Linked DNA regions of Homo sapiens: all the other regions are linked to region 4. Evidence: fine-mapped expression QTL. A gene starts in region 4. Each other region holds a variant in brackets. All regions are shown on one strand. Distances are from middle to middle.

Evidence for each region. PIP is the estimated chance that this variant, and not a neighbour inherited with it, causes the effect.
Region 1: its variant is the best candidate, but not a certain one, in a credible set for the expression of CNP in whole blood (INTERVAL, PIP 0.54).
Region 2: its variant is the best candidate, but not a certain one, in a credible set for the expression of CNP in blood mononuclear cells (TOPMed, PIP 0.51).
Region 3: its variant is the best candidate, but not a certain one, in a credible set for the expression of CNP in whole blood (INTERVAL, PIP 0.64).

Annotation. Positions count from the first base shown.
Region 1 is chr17:42,040,718-42,044,874 of GRCh38, reverse strand. The region is part of intron 2 of ZNF385C (zinc finger protein 385C); the gene reads left to right. It overlaps C17orf113 (chromosome 17 open reading frame 113), which reads left to right. Exons shown (of 3, transcript NM_001358661.2): 2 at 1,312-2,041; 3 at 3,686-4,157. The coding sequence starts at 1,499. Among named protein-coding and RNA genes, the nearest start is that of C17orf113, 7.8 kb to the left of the region's middle. The variant C/TC (reference allele first, on the strand shown) is at 2,354.
Region 2 is chr17:41,938,095-41,942,251 of GRCh38, reverse strand. It overlaps ODAD4 (outer dynein arm docking complex subunit 4), which reads right to left. Exons shown (of 12, transcript NM_031421.5): 6 at 3,471-3,695; 7 at 3,080-3,287. Among named protein-coding and RNA genes, the nearest start is that of ODAD4, 9.6 kb to the right of the region's middle. The variant C/T (reference allele first, on the strand shown) is at 2,032.
Region 3 is chr17:42,066,313-42,070,469 of GRCh38, reverse strand. All of the region lies in intron 1 of ZNF385C (zinc finger protein 385C), which reads left to right. Among named protein-coding and RNA genes, the nearest start is that of C17orf113, 18 kb to the right of the region's middle. RefSeq lists an enhancer at 1,949-2,449 and a silencer at 2,925-3,219. The variant C/T (reference allele first, on the strand shown) is at 1,941.
Region 4 is chr17:41,965,006-41,969,162 of GRCh38, reverse strand. CNP (2'',3''-cyclic nucleotide 3'' phosphodiesterase) reads right to left here and starts at 2,368. Exons shown (of 4, transcript NM_033133.5): 1 at 2,276-2,368; 2 at 423-1,095. The coding sequence starts at 2,278. It overlaps ODAD4 (outer dynein arm docking complex subunit 4), which reads right to left. Exons shown (of 12, transcript NM_031421.5): 12 at 2,660-4,157. The coding sequence ends at 3,680. RefSeq lists enhancers at 221-778, 779-1,336, 1,337-1,894, 2,996-3,095 and silencers at 1,866-2,055, 2,186-2,625.

The sequences.
Region 1 (4,157 bases), 76 kb before region 4:
AGTCCTGAACTGCTCATCCTGGCCTCGTGCCTGGGGAGGTGGCAGAGTGAGGGAGGTAGAGGCAACTGGCTAGCTGCCTTCAGTCTGAGGCCCCAGGTCTGGGCTACCCATCCCAGAACCACAGTACCAATGGGTATGAGTGTGAGTGTGTGTTCACCTGTGTGTATAAGGAATGGAGCTTTAGAGAAAGCAAATCTTCCTGTGTCTTGGAAAGAATCAGCTTTCTGCTGATTTCTTTTCTTTCTTTTTTTTTTTTTTGAGACAGAGTTTTGCTCTTGTTGCCCAGGTTGGAGTGCAATAGCGTGATCTCGGCTCACTGCAACCTCCGCCTCCCGGGTTCAAGCGATTCTCCTGCCTCAGCCTCCCGAGTAGCTGGGATTACAGGCATGTGCCACCATGCCAACTAATTTTGTTACCTTTAGTAGAGATGGGGTTTCTCCATGTTGGTCAGGCTGGTCTCGGACTCCTGACCTCAGGTGACCTGCCTGCCTCGGCCTCCCAAAGTGCTGGGATTACAGGCATGAGCCACCCCACCCGGCCGTCTTTTTTTTTTTTTTTTTTTTTTTTGAGACAGGGTCTAGCTCTATTACCCAGTCTGGAATGCAGTGGCGCCATCATGGCTCACTGCAACCTTTGCCTCCCAGGCTCAAGCAATCCTGCCTCAACCTCCCCAGTAGCTGGGACTAGACATGCACCACCATGCCTGGCTAATTTTTTTTTTTTTTTTTTTTTTTAGAGATGGGGTTTTGCCATGTTGCCCAGGCTGGTCTTGAACTCCTGGGCTTAAGTGAGCCACCTCCCAAAGTGCTGGGATTATAGGAGTGAGCCACCATGCCTGGCCTGATTTCCTTCTGATGAAATAGATGACTGTGGGCTGAAGGGCACAGTCATCTTTTGGGCTAGGAGTTGAGAGTTCTGAGTTTTAGTCCTGGTTCACTATGAACTCCTCATGGGCCCTGAGAACCACTACCTGTCTCCAGACTCAGTTTCCCCTTTATAAAATACAGTTGCCTAGGTGATGCCAGCCTTTCCAGTTCTGAGATGCTTCATCAGTCAAAGCGAATTAGTGCCTTGTCCTGGGTGGAAAGAGACCCTGGGAGGGGGCTGGGGTCCCCATACCTCCCCTGCTTTGGATAATGCTCTAGGGCCCTTTGCATGACTCCACCCACTGCCCAGAGCCCCTGCCCCAGTGAGTCCCTCCACCCCTCAGCTGGGAGGACTCTGTGGGCAGCATGAAGCCTACCACTCCACCCTAAACCACCCCTACCATGACAGACCCCTAACACCTCTGCCTGTCTCTTTCATCTCCAGTCTCCCACCGGCAGAGCAGGAATAAACTCTCCAGGCTTAGATGGATGGGCCCTGTTAGCCTGGCGGGCTGCCCCCAGCCTGCCTCCCCATCAACTCTCCTTGTCAAGGGAGGTGCCTGTGTGTGGGGGAGGCAGGGGGGCAAGAGCATTCAGGTGGGGGTTGGGGGTTCCTTGCTGAGAGAGCAAGAATGGTGCCCCCAGGGAAGAAACCAGCGGGAGAGGCCTCCAACTCCAACAAGAAGTGTAAGCGTTACTTCAACGAGCACTGGAAAGAGGAGTTTACCTGGCTGGACTTTGACTATGAGCGGAAGCTGATGTTCTGCCTCGAGTGCCGCCAGGCCCTGGTACGGAACAAGCATGGCAAAGCCGAAAACGCCTTCACTGTGGGCACAGACAACTTCCAGCGCCACGCCCTGCTGCGCCACGTGACCTCAGGAGCCCACCGCCAGGCTCTGGCTGTCAACCAGGGCCAGCCCCCTTTTGAGGGCCAGGCTGAAGGTGGAGGGGCCTGCCCAGGCCTGGCTACGACCCCTGCCTCCAGGGGCGTCAAGGTGGAGTTAGACCCGGCCAAAGTGGCTGTGCTGACTACTGTGTACTGCATGGCAAAGGAGGATGTGCCCAATGACCGCTGCTCTGCCCTGCTCGAGCTGCAGAGGTTCAACCTGTGCCAGGCACTGCTGGGCACAGAGCATGGCGATTACTACAGTCCCAGGAGGGTGAGGGACATGCAGGTGGGTGACAGCCAGAAGTATGGGGGAAGGGCTTGGGAAGGGAGGACACTGAGCCACCTGGGAACAGCCCCAGCATGCCAGCTCCTTGGGGAGCAGCTAGGGCATTTCATTCATATCTTCACCCTTCAGAACCTTCCCTGAGAGCCTATGTCCCTGGTCCTGGGCCAGCTGCAGGGATACAACAGTGAAGAGGCCAGACCAGGCCTCTTAGCGGGCACAGGGGCACTCTTCTCACTGCCTAAATCAGACGTTGCAAACTGGTGGCCTGGAGGCTTGATTGACCCACAGATGTATTTAATTTTTTTTTTTTTT[C/TC]TTGAGGAATCTCACTCTGTCACCCAGGCTGGAGAGCAGTGGCGTGATCTCAGCTCACTGCAACCTCTGCCTTCCTGGCTCAAGTGATTCTCCTGCCTCAGCCTCCCTATTAGCTAGGAATATAGGCATGTGCCACCACGCTCAGCTAATTTTTGTATTTTTAGTAGAGACGGGGTATCACCATGTTGGCCAGGCCAGTTTCGAACTCCTGACCTCAGGTGATCTGCCTACCTCAGCCTTCCAAAGTGCTGGTATTATAGGTGTAAGCAACCGCGCCTGGCCTCTGTTTTTTGTTTTTTGGTTTTTTTTAAACATAGAGATGGGGTCTCATTATGTTGCCCAGGCTGGTCTTGGGCTCCTGGCCTCAAGCAATCCTCCTGCCTTGGCCCCGCAAAGTGCTGGAATGGAAATGGAAATGACTTTTGACTTAGTTTTCTTTTGGGGCTGTTTTCTGTGCTGAGCCTGTTTAATTGGTTTTCATAATGTTTTTGAAAAACTCGAATGTGTTTCAACTTTTAAAAAACTCAGGAGATTACATATAAAAATCTAGATTTGTGACTTGTGTTGAAAAGCAAGGTCCCCATGCTCTCAGAGCAGGATGTGCTGGAGTTGGAGAGCAGGGTGTTCCCTCTGGCTTATCCCTGGCCCTCTCCAAGCTCAATATCACTCACATGGCCCCTGGAAGCATGCAAATTGCAGCTCTGTCCTAGGTACTAACTGTGTAAGTCCTATGGGCTGGGTTGGAGGTGGGGGAGTTGGATCTCATCCTACAGAGATGACAAATAGAGAAACAGCACACAGCTGGGACCCAGGGTGACTGGTTGGGAGTTGGGAGTGAGTGTGCCTATCAGTTAATCACTGAGCTGGACAGTGGAGGGAGACCCCCAGGAATAGGGCAGACTAGGATGATGCTATAGAAAAACACAGTGAAAAAACTAGCTTTCCTAGAGCTCTTTATGATTCATAAAGTGCTTTTACCACAACAAAAGTTGATGTTTATAATTCACAACAAGCTTTGAGAAGATTTCGGGCTGGTATTAGCTGACAGCAGGTATAAGAGCTGAGAAAACTAGACCGGGTGTGGTGGGAGGCCGGGGTGGGAGGATATTCTTAGACAGGCCAGGAGCTGTAGAGATGAGAAAACTGAGGCTCGGAGAGGTGAAGTGACTGGCCGAAGGTAGCACAGCCAGTAAGTGGCAAAGCCAGGATTAGTCCCTAAGTCTGTCTAACCTCAAGGCCTGGGCTCTTTCCACCACCCCGCACTGCCTGCCTCCGCCTCTCAGGACAAGCCTAACTCAGTCCTCCCTCCCTTTCTTTCCCTGGCTGTCCCAGGTGGCCATTGCCAGTGTCTTGCACACAGAGGCCTGCCAGCGCCTGAAGGCATCCCCATATGTGGGGCTGGTGTTGGACGAGACCAGAGACTGGCCGGAGTCACACAGCCTGGCCCTGTTTGCCACTTCAGTGTCCCCCTGTGATGGCCAGCCCGCCACCACCTTCCTGGGCAGTGTGGAGCTACAGGAGGGCGAGGCCACTGCTGGCCAGCTCTTGGACATCCTGCAGGCTTTCGGCGTATCTGCACCCAAGCTGGCCTGGCTCAGCTCAAGCCTCCCCAGTGAGCGCCTGGGGAGTGTGGGCCCACAGCTCCGGGCCACTTGCCCACTGCTGGCAGAGCTGCATTGTCTCCCTGGCCGGACAGATCCTGAGCCCCCGGCCTACTTGGGTCAATATGAGAGCATATTGGATGCCCTATTCCGCCTCCATGGTGGCCCTAGTTCCCACTTGGTCCCTGAGCTCCGGGCAGCAC
Region 2 (4,157 bases), 27 kb after region 4:
ATGTTAAAAACTAATAGCCCGGGCATGGTGGCTCACACCTGTCATCCTAGCACTTTGGGAGGCTGAGGTGGGCGGATCACCTGAGGTCAGGAGTTAGAGACTAGCCTGGCTAACATGGTGAAACCCCATCTCTACTAAAAACACAAAATTAGCCGGGCTGCCAATAATCCCAGCTACTTGGGAGGCTGAGGCAGAAGAATCACTTGAACCAGGGAGGCGGAGGTTGCAGGTTGCAGTGAGCCGAGATCACTCCATTGCACTCCAGCCTGGGCAAGAAGAGTGAAACTCCATCTCAAATTATTCAGTCACTTAGCACACATTCATTACATGCCCACTGTGTGGCAGATGCTGGGAATAGCACCTTCCAAAGTCCAAAGTCTAACAGGACAGAAAGGCTACCTGTGGAGAGGGAGCCTAGGGGAGGGATTTGTAACCCCTGGGGCAGCAGGCAGGCTTTTCTTTTCTCTCTTTTTTTTTTTTTTTTTGAGACGGAGTCTCGCTCTGTCGCCCAGTCACTATCTCGGCTCACTGCAAGCTCCGCCTCCTGGGTTCACGCCATTCTCCTGCCTCAGCCTCCCAAGTAGCTGGGACTACAGGCGCACACCACCACACCCGGCTAACACTACGCCCGGCTAATTTTTTTTGTATTTTTAGTAGAGATGGGGTTTCACCGTGTTAGCCAGGATGGTCTCGATCTCCTGACCTCGTGATCCACCCACCTTGGCCTCCCAAAATGCTGGGATTACAGGCGTGAGCCACCGCTCAGGCTAGGAGGCAGGCTTTTCAACCTTTATTGAAATGTTGAAGAATGGGTGGCGGCAGCTTGATAAAGCAAGTGCTGGGAAAAGGGAAAGCATTCCTGGGGCTGGAGGATATGCACAGAGCTCTGCACTGGCTGGGGCCCAGAATGCCTGGGGGCCTGGAGAAAGCCAGGTCAAGACAGGCCAGGAGAAGTCAAGTGAAGAAGGGCAACCTGTGTTGAGCAGGGCATTGAAATTTCATCCCAACCACAGGAGTTGTTTTTCAGAGAAAGGACAGCTGAACTGTAGGAAGCCCAGGTCAGAGGAAACAGGCAAGAAGTAAGGATGGTCTGGACTGAGTTGTGGGAGGGAAACAGAGAAAGTATGGACAGGACAAGACATGGCCATTGCTGGGCATGAACAGTGAGGGGGCCAAGCGCAGTGGCTCACGCCTGTCATCCAGACCAACTTGAGCGATATGGCAAAAACAGAGAGGGGAAGGAGGTATCTGGGAAGCCTCCGGTCTTCTGGCTTGGGACTCAGTGGCCAACAGTGCTATCCTCGGGGATGGGGAACCCTCAAGAAGTAAGTTTGGGAGGAAGATAAGGGATTCCGATTTGGACATGTTAAGTTTAGGATTCCTGTGGGACATCCAGATGGAAATGTCTTAGAATCTGCTGGACACACAGGTCTGAGGCTCAGGAGAGAGGTCTGGCGAGAAGTAAAGATTTCTAACTCATTTGTGCATGGGAGATGGTTGGATCCAAGGTACCATATATATACATCACATCTAATCCCCACAGTCCCTGTGGGTTGGTATTATTATGCCTTCATTAGAGATGAGGAAACTGAGTAGAGGAGCAACTTAATCAAATCCACACAGCTTCTAAGTGGCAGAGCCAGTTAGAAGACAGGGATCGAAGACAGGTCTGTCCCTAAAGCTATTTTTTTCTAATATGGGATGGCCAGTATGGGATATTCCTGCTCAGCACAGTGGAGGCAGGCGAGAAATGAACTGGGAATGGAAAGCATATGGGGCTTGGATCAGTGAAGAGGAAAGGGCAGGAGGCAGGAATGTTCAGGAACGTTTGACCCCAAGGGAAGATTGCTATAAGAGGGCCAGGGTGGGTTTAGAGAGGGCCTGAGGGCCAAGCAAAGGGGCTTGACCTTTAACCTGCAGGCAGTGAGGGGCCCAGGCCCACTTGTGAGCAGGGGAGGGAGAGTTCATAGCATGTGTCTCTGGAGATTTGTGGGAGGAGCTGGAGAGAGACAGCAGAGGCAGGGGAAGCAG[C/T]AGGACTCAGGTCGGCTGAGGGCTGGGCACTGTGAGGGCAAATGGGATGATGGGAGATCAAGGAGGCTCAGACTGGTGAGATGGGTAGAAACCAGGCAGGAGGAAGTCAAGAATGACTCCAAAGGGTAGAACCAGGATGCTGAGAAAGCGATGGAACCTCCGGGTGGAAGTCAGCAAGTCTTGAGAAGATCTCATTTCTGGAGAGCTGGTGTTACTACTATTGTGGATACCAGGCACTGTCCTAAGGTCTGCACAGGTACTTCTGTATTTCATCCTCCCTTCTGCCCTACAGGGTGCCCAGCTAACAGGAGGAGACCCTGAGGCTGAGGGAGCTAAAGTGGCTTATCTCAGGTTCCACGGCTGGGCGGTGCAAGTTCCACAGCCTAGGTCTGCCTGACTCCACAGCCCGTGCTCTTGATCAGCACCGGTTTTAAAAGACCCTGCTTGATCCATCCCCTGCCCACTTCCTTCAGCCTCCTCTTGGCCCCTCTCCCTGGCAATATGCTGTGCTCTCCAGGCTTAAGTACCCTCCTGTCTCAGGGCCTTTCCATAGGCCCTGTGTGTTCCCCAATGTCATCAAGTCCTCCTGGAATGTATTTCTCACCACACTGGATCCTGTACTTTTCTTTCATGGCACTTATCACAATTGCAATTAATTAGCTATGTCCCTTTTTGCTTGACATCTGCAGGGAAATGGCCCTTGTGTCTGGTTATTACTGTGTTCCCACACTAGCAGCATCTGGCATGTCTGGGGCTTCATGCATGCTCGTTAAGCTGATGTAAGAATATAAACATCCCTAAGAGCCAGATCATTGGGTAGCTTTTTGGAATTTTGAGCCACTACCCTTTTGGTGGCAAAAAAGCTAACAGTCTAGGTGCCCCCACCCTCAGTCCTGGGCAGGTGGTCCCCACCTCCAGGAGAATCTACCTCAGGCATGCAGAGCAGAAAATGGGAGTCAAGCCACCAGCAGCCCTGGCAAGGGCCTCAGATAGCCCCAGGTGTCCTTCTCCGTAGGCTCACGCCAGTGGCCTCCCCTAGGGCACTCACTATTCCTTGGCGATCTCCAGGTCCTTTCTGTGGCTCTGCAGGGCTGCCTCCATCTGCCCCAGCTCAATCTGGGCATTCCCTATGCAGCTATACAAGTTTCCAACCAGTTCATCCTTGTTGGGTACCTCTTCCTTGTTCCATTCCAGTACCTTCTTCAGCACTTTCTCAGCTTTCTGAAGACTCCCTTCAGCACTGCCACTTGTGAGCACTGAGAAAGGAAAGGGGTGCTGTGGAGGCCAGGGCAGCCTCCTCTTAGCTGACAGGGTAACTCCTCTTCCTGCAGACACCATCTGCAGGTCTGAGAGACCAGGGGCTCAGACACCTGGTTGCTCCTTCCCCACCTGATAAGGCACTGGAGGCACCTGCCCCACCCTCTGAGAACAACACCTACACATATCAATGTCCTCCAGGCTCTTGAGGATGTAATGGGCTGTCTGTGAGGGACGGCGTTTGTGGTCCCGCAGCCATTTCTCTTGCATCAGCTTCCGGTCCCGCTCCCTGGCGTAGATCGGCTTCTGCTGCCTCCAGAAGTTGCTGTGAGTATCCAGGTAGTTGATGCCCGTCATGATGAGGTCCTCCACAGTCAGGCCGCCCTTCATGGTGCCTTTGATCAGGTCTGTGGGGAAGGGGTGTGAGGAGGCGCCAAGGAGAACAGGCCTCTAAGGGATTTGCCTCCTGTTTCCTCCCGGTGGCCGCTGCAGGGCCCTCTGTGAACTTGCTCTGCTTGGAGTTGTTGAAACAGAGAGGAGTGTGAGTGCGCATAGTGGCAGAGTGGGTTTATCCAGGCCAGGAGGCAGCCAGAGCCCCACTATCAGGGAGTTCCATGCTATGGGCCCCTTATGGCAAGATATGAGGAGCTAGCCAGAAGGGGCAGCTGGTGGATGGCTCGCTGAGAAGCCTCGGGGCTTCCCCAGTTCAAGCTGTGTCCTCAGATAACACTGAGTCTAAATGCACGATCTGGCCCAGGCTGCCAGTGCCCAGTGATTTCCCAGGTGCCCAGTGGGCCTGTGCATGCTGGAAGCTGGAAGGCGGGTGCCCAAGTCCTGCCCACTGCCTGGCCAGAGGTTACAGCCAGAAG
Region 3 (4,157 bases), 100 kb before region 4:
ACCTTGGCCTCCACTGCCTTCCACCTTAGCAGTAGCGGCTCTGTGTGGCCACTGCAATTCAGCCTGCAAAGGACCTAGGAGCCCAATCCCCTCTCTTATCTATTTTATTTTATTTTTTACTTTTTTGAGATGGAGTCTCGCTCTGTCGCACAGGCTGGAGTGCAGTGGCGCGATCTCGGCTCACTGCAAGCTCCGCCTCCCGGGTTCACGCCATTCTCCTGCCTCAGCCTCCTGAGTAGTGGGACTACAGGCACCTGCCACCACGCCTGGCTAATTTTTTTGTATTTTTGGTAGAGATGGGGTTTCATCGTGTTAGCCAGGATGGTCTCGATCTCCTGACCTCATGATCCGCCCGCCTCGGCCTCCCAAAGTGCTGGGATTACAGGCGTGAGCCACCGCGCCCTGCTATTTTTTACTTATTTATTTTTTTGAGACGGAGTTTCATTGTCTCTGGGGCTGGAGTGCAGTGGTGCAATCTCGGCTCATTGCAACCTCTGCCTCCCAGGTTCAAGCAATTCTCCTGCCTCAGCCTCCCGAGTAGTTGGGATTACAGGCACTCACCACCATGTTGGCTAATTTTTGTATCTTTAGTAGAGACGGGGTTTCACCATGTTGGCCAGGCTGGTCTCAAACTCCCAGCCTCAGGTGATCCACCTGCCTTGGCCTCCCAAAGTGCTGGGATTACAGGCAAGAGCCACCACGCCTGGCCCCCTCTCTTTAAAGACAGGAAACCAAAGCCCAGCGAGGCAGGGTCTGGCCCAAGTTTGGCCGGCCAGCCAGCCTGGCCTGGTCTGGGAAGTAGGCTGGGGAGGCGGGAGGGTGGCTGTTGGCTGACATGGAGGAAAATGCCAGAGGGTAACTGGGCTTGTTAAGGGTTTGAGGAGGGAACCCTTCATGCTCTGCCAAAGGCTGGGGACAGGTCTCGAACCTTCCTCTCCGGTTACCTCTTTAGGAGAAGCAGCCTTTTCTGGAGGACTCCTTTCCCAGGCTGCAGCAGAAACAACCGTCTGCTGCCTGTTTTCTGGCCTCCACAGTCCCCTCCATTCAGCCCTCTCTGGATGGACAGGCAGGGAATCTCATCACCTCACGGTGGCCAAGGACCCCATGGAAACCCAGGGACCTCACGTGCATTTGTCACCCAACCAGAAGTGGTGGAGATGGGACCCCAGAGCCCTGCCTGCGTGCTCCCCCCAACCCACCCCCCAGCTCCACATTGATGGACACACAGGCAGACAGGCAGACAGAAACTGGGCTACACAGCTCTCCAGCACAGGTAGTGTGAGCCTGCCTCCAAGTGGGTGGCTCCCTCCCAGGGCCCAACCCCTACCCTCTCTGCAGCAGCCTCAGCCCATCTCTCAGGGAAGACAGGGAACAGAGGGAGATTTAACCAGCTTCCTGTAGAAATCCCAGACAGACAGACAGACAGATGGATGGGTACATACACGCTTTTTCTCTGCTTTCCCCTTGTCCTTCCTCCCCACCTCTTTGGCTCTGGCCCCACCTCTTTCTACCCAGGGTGTAGCCCGTCTCTGCGAGGCACAGGGCCTGATAGAGGCTGCACAACCCTGCCCCTCCCCAGAGCCCTTCTCTGAATCTGTGGCCCCCTCCCCACCCATCAGTTCAGGTCAGGATTTGGCAGGCTTTAAGGAGAGGTGGGATGGGGCAGTGGGTAAGGACTTGGGCTTTGAGTCAGACAAGCATAGGTCCAGGTCCAGCCACAGAACCTCCCAAAGCCTGTTCTCTAATCTATGCAGTGGGATAACAGGTTAATAATGGTGCTCATCTCATGGAATTGTGAAGTTTAAGAGAGATCCTGTTTGGGCATGGTGGCACATGCCGGTAATCCCAGCTACTTGGGAGGCTGGGGCAGGAGGTTCACTTGATCCCTACAAGTTTGAGGCCAGCCTGGAGCCTGGGAAACGTAGTCAAACCCTATCCCC[C/T]CCAAAAAAGAAAAAAGACCCTTTTTGTCAAACACCTGGCCCACAGTAAGCCCTCAATAAATGGGGTTGTTATTTCATAAAGAAGATGTGACGTAAGCAGCTGGGGGGCGAAGAGAAAGACAGGGAAGCCTCTATAATCAGCTCATGCATCGTCTTTCCATTTGCTTTGAAGCAAGTCCACTGCCCTGCTCTGGAACTCAGTTTCCCCATCTGCTTAAGGCAGCATGTGGACTAGGTCCTGTCCAAGTGTAGGTCCTGCTAGCGTGGGTCATGCTGGCTCTGAGTAGGGGCCAGGGTTGGGGATGCCGAGCTGCCGATGCTCAGGGCAGGGTTAGACAGACCTGTGTGCCCCCGTCACTGCCCACCCGTCCACACTTTCTGACTGGGCTCCCCTAGCTTAGCTGGGGCAGTGTGGCTCCTAAGGGAACAGCTGGGAAGGCTGGGTCAGGCAGGGCAGGCTGCAGCAGGCCCAGCAGCCTGGCTGGGGGGAACACAATTAGCCCAGAATCCAGGCGGCCCCGTGAGCCCAGAGGCTATATATCACAGAGGTTTAATCAGCTGTGTGGCAGATATTTGCTCTCTTGGGCGATGTCCCCGGCCCGCCTGTCATAAATTGCACTGAGATTTCAAAATACCCCTGTCCCCATGCTGGCGGGGCAGGCAGCTCTCCTTGGCATGGCCAGGAAAATCTCATTCCTCTGAAGCCTCCACCCGGGGAATGGGACCTCTCCCCCCACCAACACTTGCACCTAAGACCTTCTTCCTGCCTCCTCCTGCTGGGAGAGTTGGGGAGGACATGGAGAGGCAGGAGAGTCGCTGTGATGACCTCCATCTAGAGGTGAGAAGGTGCAAAATATTGGTGGGGGGCTCCATGCAGTAATGGGGCCTTCTCACAATGGCAGTGACCTCCAGTGTGCCCTCTGTGGGAAGAGCTATACCCTGGACCCGTGGTGTGGCTCCAGGAGACAGCTGCATTGCCCCTTGAGTGTGGGGACTGGGGTCTGTCATGCCCAGGGGGTACGGAGTCTTCACCTACCTTCCCACTGGATGTTTGCTGCGCCACCTGGAGGCTATCTGTGGGACTGCCGCCCAGCCACAACATCCAAACCCTAGCAGCAGGGTTTGGACCATCAAATCACCAAGCACTTATGACCACACCAGGGTGAGATCTATGGCGCGTTAGTTTGTTAGGGCTCCCATAACAAAGTGCCACAGGCTGGGTGGCACTTAAACAGTAGAAGTTTATTGTCTCAGTTCTGGATCCTAAAAGTCCAAGATCAATATGTGTCAGCAAGGCTGGGCGCAGTGGCTCATAACTGTGATCCCAGCACTTTGGGAGCCCGAGGCTGGAGGATCTATTCAGCCCAAGTGTTTGAGGTTACAGTGAGCTATGATCACACTGCTCCACTTCAGCCTGGGCAACAGAGCAAGACCCTGTCTCTCTCTCTTTTTTTTTTTTCTGAGACGGAGTCTTGCTCTGTTACCTAGGCTTGAGTGCCATGGCACGATCTCGACTCACTGCAACCTCTGCCTCCCAGGTTCAAGCAATTCTCTTGCCTCAGCCTCCTGAGTACCTGGGATTACAGGCACCCACCACCGCGCCTGGCTAATTTTTTTGTATTTTTAGTGGAGACAGAGTTTCACCATGTTGGCCAGGCTGGTCTTGAACTCCTGATCTCGTGATCCACCCACCTCGGCCTCCCAAAGTGCTGGGATTACAGGCGTGAGCCACTGCGCCCAGTCAATTTCACCTTTTCATAAGGACACCAGTCATGTATATTGGATTACGGGCCCACCCTATACCAGTCTGGCCTTATCTTAATAGCATCTGCAACGACCCTATTTCCAAATAAGGTCATATTCTGGAAGTGCTGGGGATTAGGATGTCAACATATTGAATTTTGGGGGACATAATTCAACCAATATCACATAGTGAGTCTCAGATGTTCAGTGACAGTCTCATTTCATGGTCTGGGCACAATGACACCCACACTATGGCACAGCTACACTACGACATGCACACAGAGTGAGTGACATAGATTCACCTCAACAAACGATGGGGTAACAGACATTTGCAGTGACCCAGGTACATCATGACAGACACACAGGGTGACAGACTTCACTCACAAGCTGCAAGAGACAGACACACTATGTGTTAATAACAGCTGATTGGCCGGGCACCAGTGGCTCACGCTTGTAATCCCAGCACTTTGGGAG
Region 4 (4,157 bases):
TTTTTTGGAACATGATTCTGCTGCTAAAAATGCGTTGGAAAACACTGGGCTTGATTCCCCCTCTAAGGTTACATTAGAAGAGGACATGTTTCCTGTTACTACAGTAATTTGTTTTTCCCACCTCCAAGACAAGGGACAGTGGTCTACATTCAGGCTGGGAAAAGGGTGTCGGAGAGAAGAGGGCTAGAAGGATAGGTGTGGTGGGAGGAAAGGCGCTCTGGGAAGCCCCCGTGTTCCCAATGTGCTGCCAACTCCCCAAGGCTACCACTGGGACGCACCGCTTGCCCCTGCCCCCGCTGAGGTGAGCCTCTCTCTGCCTCCTGCTGCTTCGTGCTCCATCCTTTGAGTACAATGATGGTCCTTTGCCCGCAGCACCCTGTGCCCAGCAAGGTGGGCTTATAAGGCCCCAACCTGCCACCTACATTGTCGCAGCTCCTTCTTGAAGGCCTTGTGGTTCCCCAGCTCTTCCAGGAAGACCTGGCCGGCTTTGCGGAGGGTCTCAGAGCTCTTCTTGGTCAGGAACCAGCCGAAGTAGAGCGGCAGGAAGTCCTTCTCCAGCCCAGGCTTCAGCTTCTTCAGGTCATCAGCCGACAGCTGCCACTGGTTCTTCTCCTTGAGCTGGGCACAGTCCAGCCGCCACGCCGTCTTGGGCTCCACCAGCACCACCTGGTACTGGTACTGGTCGGCCATTTCAAAGAGCTGCTCCAGCCGTTCCCGTTCGTGGTTGGTGTCATCAAGCACAAGAATTCTGATGTCCCGGCGGCGGCAGTAGGCAGCCAGGTCCTCATCGAGCCGCTTGTACTCCTCGGAGAAGGCTCCTCGAGCGCCGGGGGTGATCTTGTAAGCGTCAGCCGACACCATCTTGGTGCCATCACGGTACTTGTCCACGATGACCCGTGCCAGCGTGGACTTGCCGCTTCCTGGCAGGCCGCGCAAGATGAAGAGCGTCTTGCACTCTAGCAGCGTGGCCACTGTGTCCTCATCCTGAAGGAAGGGAAACTGCAGCTCAGGCTTGTCCTTGGCCCCTGAGGATGACATCTTGCGGAAGAAGATCTTGGGCAGGAATGTGTGGCTTTTTCGGGAGAAGCCTCTGTTCTGTGTAAGGAGGGGAAGAGATGTCAGCCCAGGTCATTCGCGGGCTCCCCGCCGGCCTTACCCCTAGTCCCTAGACTGGTTGTGGGTGCCTTCCCAAGCGGGGCAGTGCTGGACCTTCTTTCCCTTTCGGTCCGGGAGCACCTTTCCGCTTCTGGTCGTGGAGGAGGAAGAGGGAAGCTTGTCTGAAGCTCTCCTAAGCGTGCGCTTTCCCCATTCCTGCCACTTCGGAAAGGTAAACGTGCTGGAGGCATGCGGGGCGCGCCAGGAGCCTGCGGTTCTGGGACTGGCCTCACTCTTATATGCTTGGCACCTACTAAGGACGTCCTCTTTGGAGGTGGGGGTCTCTGTGTCTGGGCCAAGCCACAGCTGCCACGGCTGAGTGCACAGAGAAGGGGGGGAGTGGAGAAGGGTTACCCCAAGACTGCCTCCCTTCCCCCAACAATGGCCGCAACAGATAATACTCTCTTGTCTGGCATGCGGGTACAATGGTCCCACAGAAGGGCTGGTGGGGGGCAGGGCAGGAGAGCACTGGACAAAGGCCCTCTTTCACCAAGCCTGCCACCTCCTCCTCTACCCTCTCCCGGCCCCCACAAAGTCGTGGTCTTTGTGCCTGTCCAGAACAGGGCAGCACAGGGCACCTGCAATTAGGATCCAGCTCTACCCGCCGCTGTGCTGTGTGTCAGAAGCGCCTCTCGGAGCCACTTGTTTTCCTATCTTCTAGAAGCCACAAGGGACGGCAGCTTTTACCGTAAAGGGTCCCCTCCTCTGAACTGGCTCCACCTCCCGCCCGCACCCGGGCGCGGGGCAGCGGTTCCGCGTGATGAGACTGGGCCCGGGGAGGGGGCGCCGAAGCGGCTGCCCCAGCGCGGGCCTGCGTGGGGTCGGGAGCAGCTCCCGGGCTCCCGGCCCAGGCCCACCCAGGCTCCCAGAGGCGCAGCAGCTTCTGCGGTCCCGAGTTCCCTCCTGAGAAACACCACCGTTTCCCTTTACAGCGGCCTCTCCGGCACCCCAAAACCCCTCCGCTTCTCCCAGACCTCAGGGCCGCCCTGAGTACCAAGAAAACTGGAAGTCGAACCCGGAGCCCCGGGTCCTCGTTTGCAAGACGCTTCCTCCCGAGGGGCCCCGACACTCGTTTCCCGCCCTGGTGCTACCCCGTGCCCGGCCCCGCCCGGCCTCTCACCATGATGAGGAGGGGCGCCACCGTCGCCGCCTCTGCCGGCACCAGCGCTCCGGGGCCGCCCGCCTGCGCGGAGGGACACGGGAGTCCAGCGGTGGCACGACCCGAGCCCGGCCGCTTTACATAGCCCGGGGGGCGGAGCGGGCACCCGGGCGGGCTGGGGGCGGGCCGTCTCCTCTGCGCGCAGGCGCTGCGAACCAAAACCCGAAACTCTCGCCGCGCGCGGGAACCTCGGCCCGGTCCCGCCCCCTGCGCGCGCCTGCTCCCCACGCGCACCCACCCACTGCGCCTGCGAGCTGAGCGGCCACTAGCTTTTTCTGCGTGTTGAGGGGTAACTCAGTCACCCTCCCCGGTCCCGTGGATTAGCAGGAAGTGAGTGAGGCAGGGTCGTGCAAAGTCGGATCCTGTCTTTAATTTTTGATATTTTATTCATCATGGACTTTTGCATTAATTAAAAACTTTTTTTTTTACCACATTGGATTAAAATATTATCATGCAATTTGCTGGCATTCCGGTAAACTCTGCATCTGAAATGCCTCACTGGCCTCATTCGTCCAGGCCCTGTGCCAGCCGAAAGTCAGTCTCAGCCCCGACCTTTCCTTCTAGGAGCTGTGGAGACAGACCAGGATGGCAATGGCCAAAGGGACAGATGAGTAACGGAGTGAAATCCTAACATCCTCTGAGGCCAGATCCTCAGCTGCCACCTCCTCTGTGAAACCACTGAGAGCTCCGTTGGATTTTTGAGTTTCCTGTCCAAGTGCTGTGCTAAGCACTCAGTCCTCGCAGCAACCCCTGAGGCAGGTATCCCATTGTTCAGAGGAGAAGCCAGCTTGGAGAGCCTGATTTACCTGATTATGCCACCCAGAGGTGTCAGAGGCGGAGTCTGTCTGCCCTCCCGACTCCCAGGCCACTCCCCTATCTTTGGCCTCACTCCCAGCATTCGCTTGGTTCTGGCTTGCGGCATTCTCCTACCTGTGACAGCTGGGGCCGCCCCACCACTGTTCCATCCATAAAGCCTCCCCGCTGTCCTGCGCACTGGAGGGACTCAGTCAGTCACCGGTGTGTGGGAAGCACCTCTCCTCCCAGGCCTTCCCCTCTCCTCCCTGTGACTTCTTGTTCCCTGTAGCGCCCGTATCTTCACCCTCCTGAAACCCTTTCTTCTTGGCACCTTTCTCATTTCTTCCACGATGCTCTTCCAAGAATGGGCAGGGGTGAAGAGGCAAAGTGACAGACTCAGGGTTTGCAAGAGTGAAAGACACCTATTTAATGGCAAAATAGTGATGGAAAGCAGCAGAAGTAAAACCCTCATTTTTCCTATAACAGACAAATCGCTTGAAAATCCAGTTTAATAAAATCCCATGATCCCTCTGAACACCAGCTTCCTGATCCTCATCTCTACCGATGGCTTCATTCATATTCCTTTTCCATCTCATTTCCTGTTTTTTTCGTTTCTCCTATTTCTCCAAATTGTGTTTTTCCCAGTTCTTCTGGCTCTCTTCTGCCCACTTCTGAAAGTTTCTTTAGTTCTTCTGGTTCCTGTCTGCTGAATTCTCCTGAGAGTCTTTGCTCTAATTCTCCCGAAGGCCTCCTATAAATTTCTCTTGACTCTCTTCTGCCAGCTTCTAGTAGCTTCCTGCCTGTTTCTCCTGATCTTGTGCCTAATTCTCCTGACAGGCCCTTGGCAACTGCTCCCAAATCGCTTCTGGCTTTTCCTGCTTCCACACTCTGCTTTCCGCTTGCTGGGCTCTGCAGAGCTTCCCCAAAAGCCTCATCGTCCTCATCTGTCTCTTTCTCATCCTCACTATGGTCCCACTGCTTCACCACCTTCTCGGGCTCATCTCTCACTCTCCTCATGTCCTTCTCTCTTGTTATTATTCTATCTTCA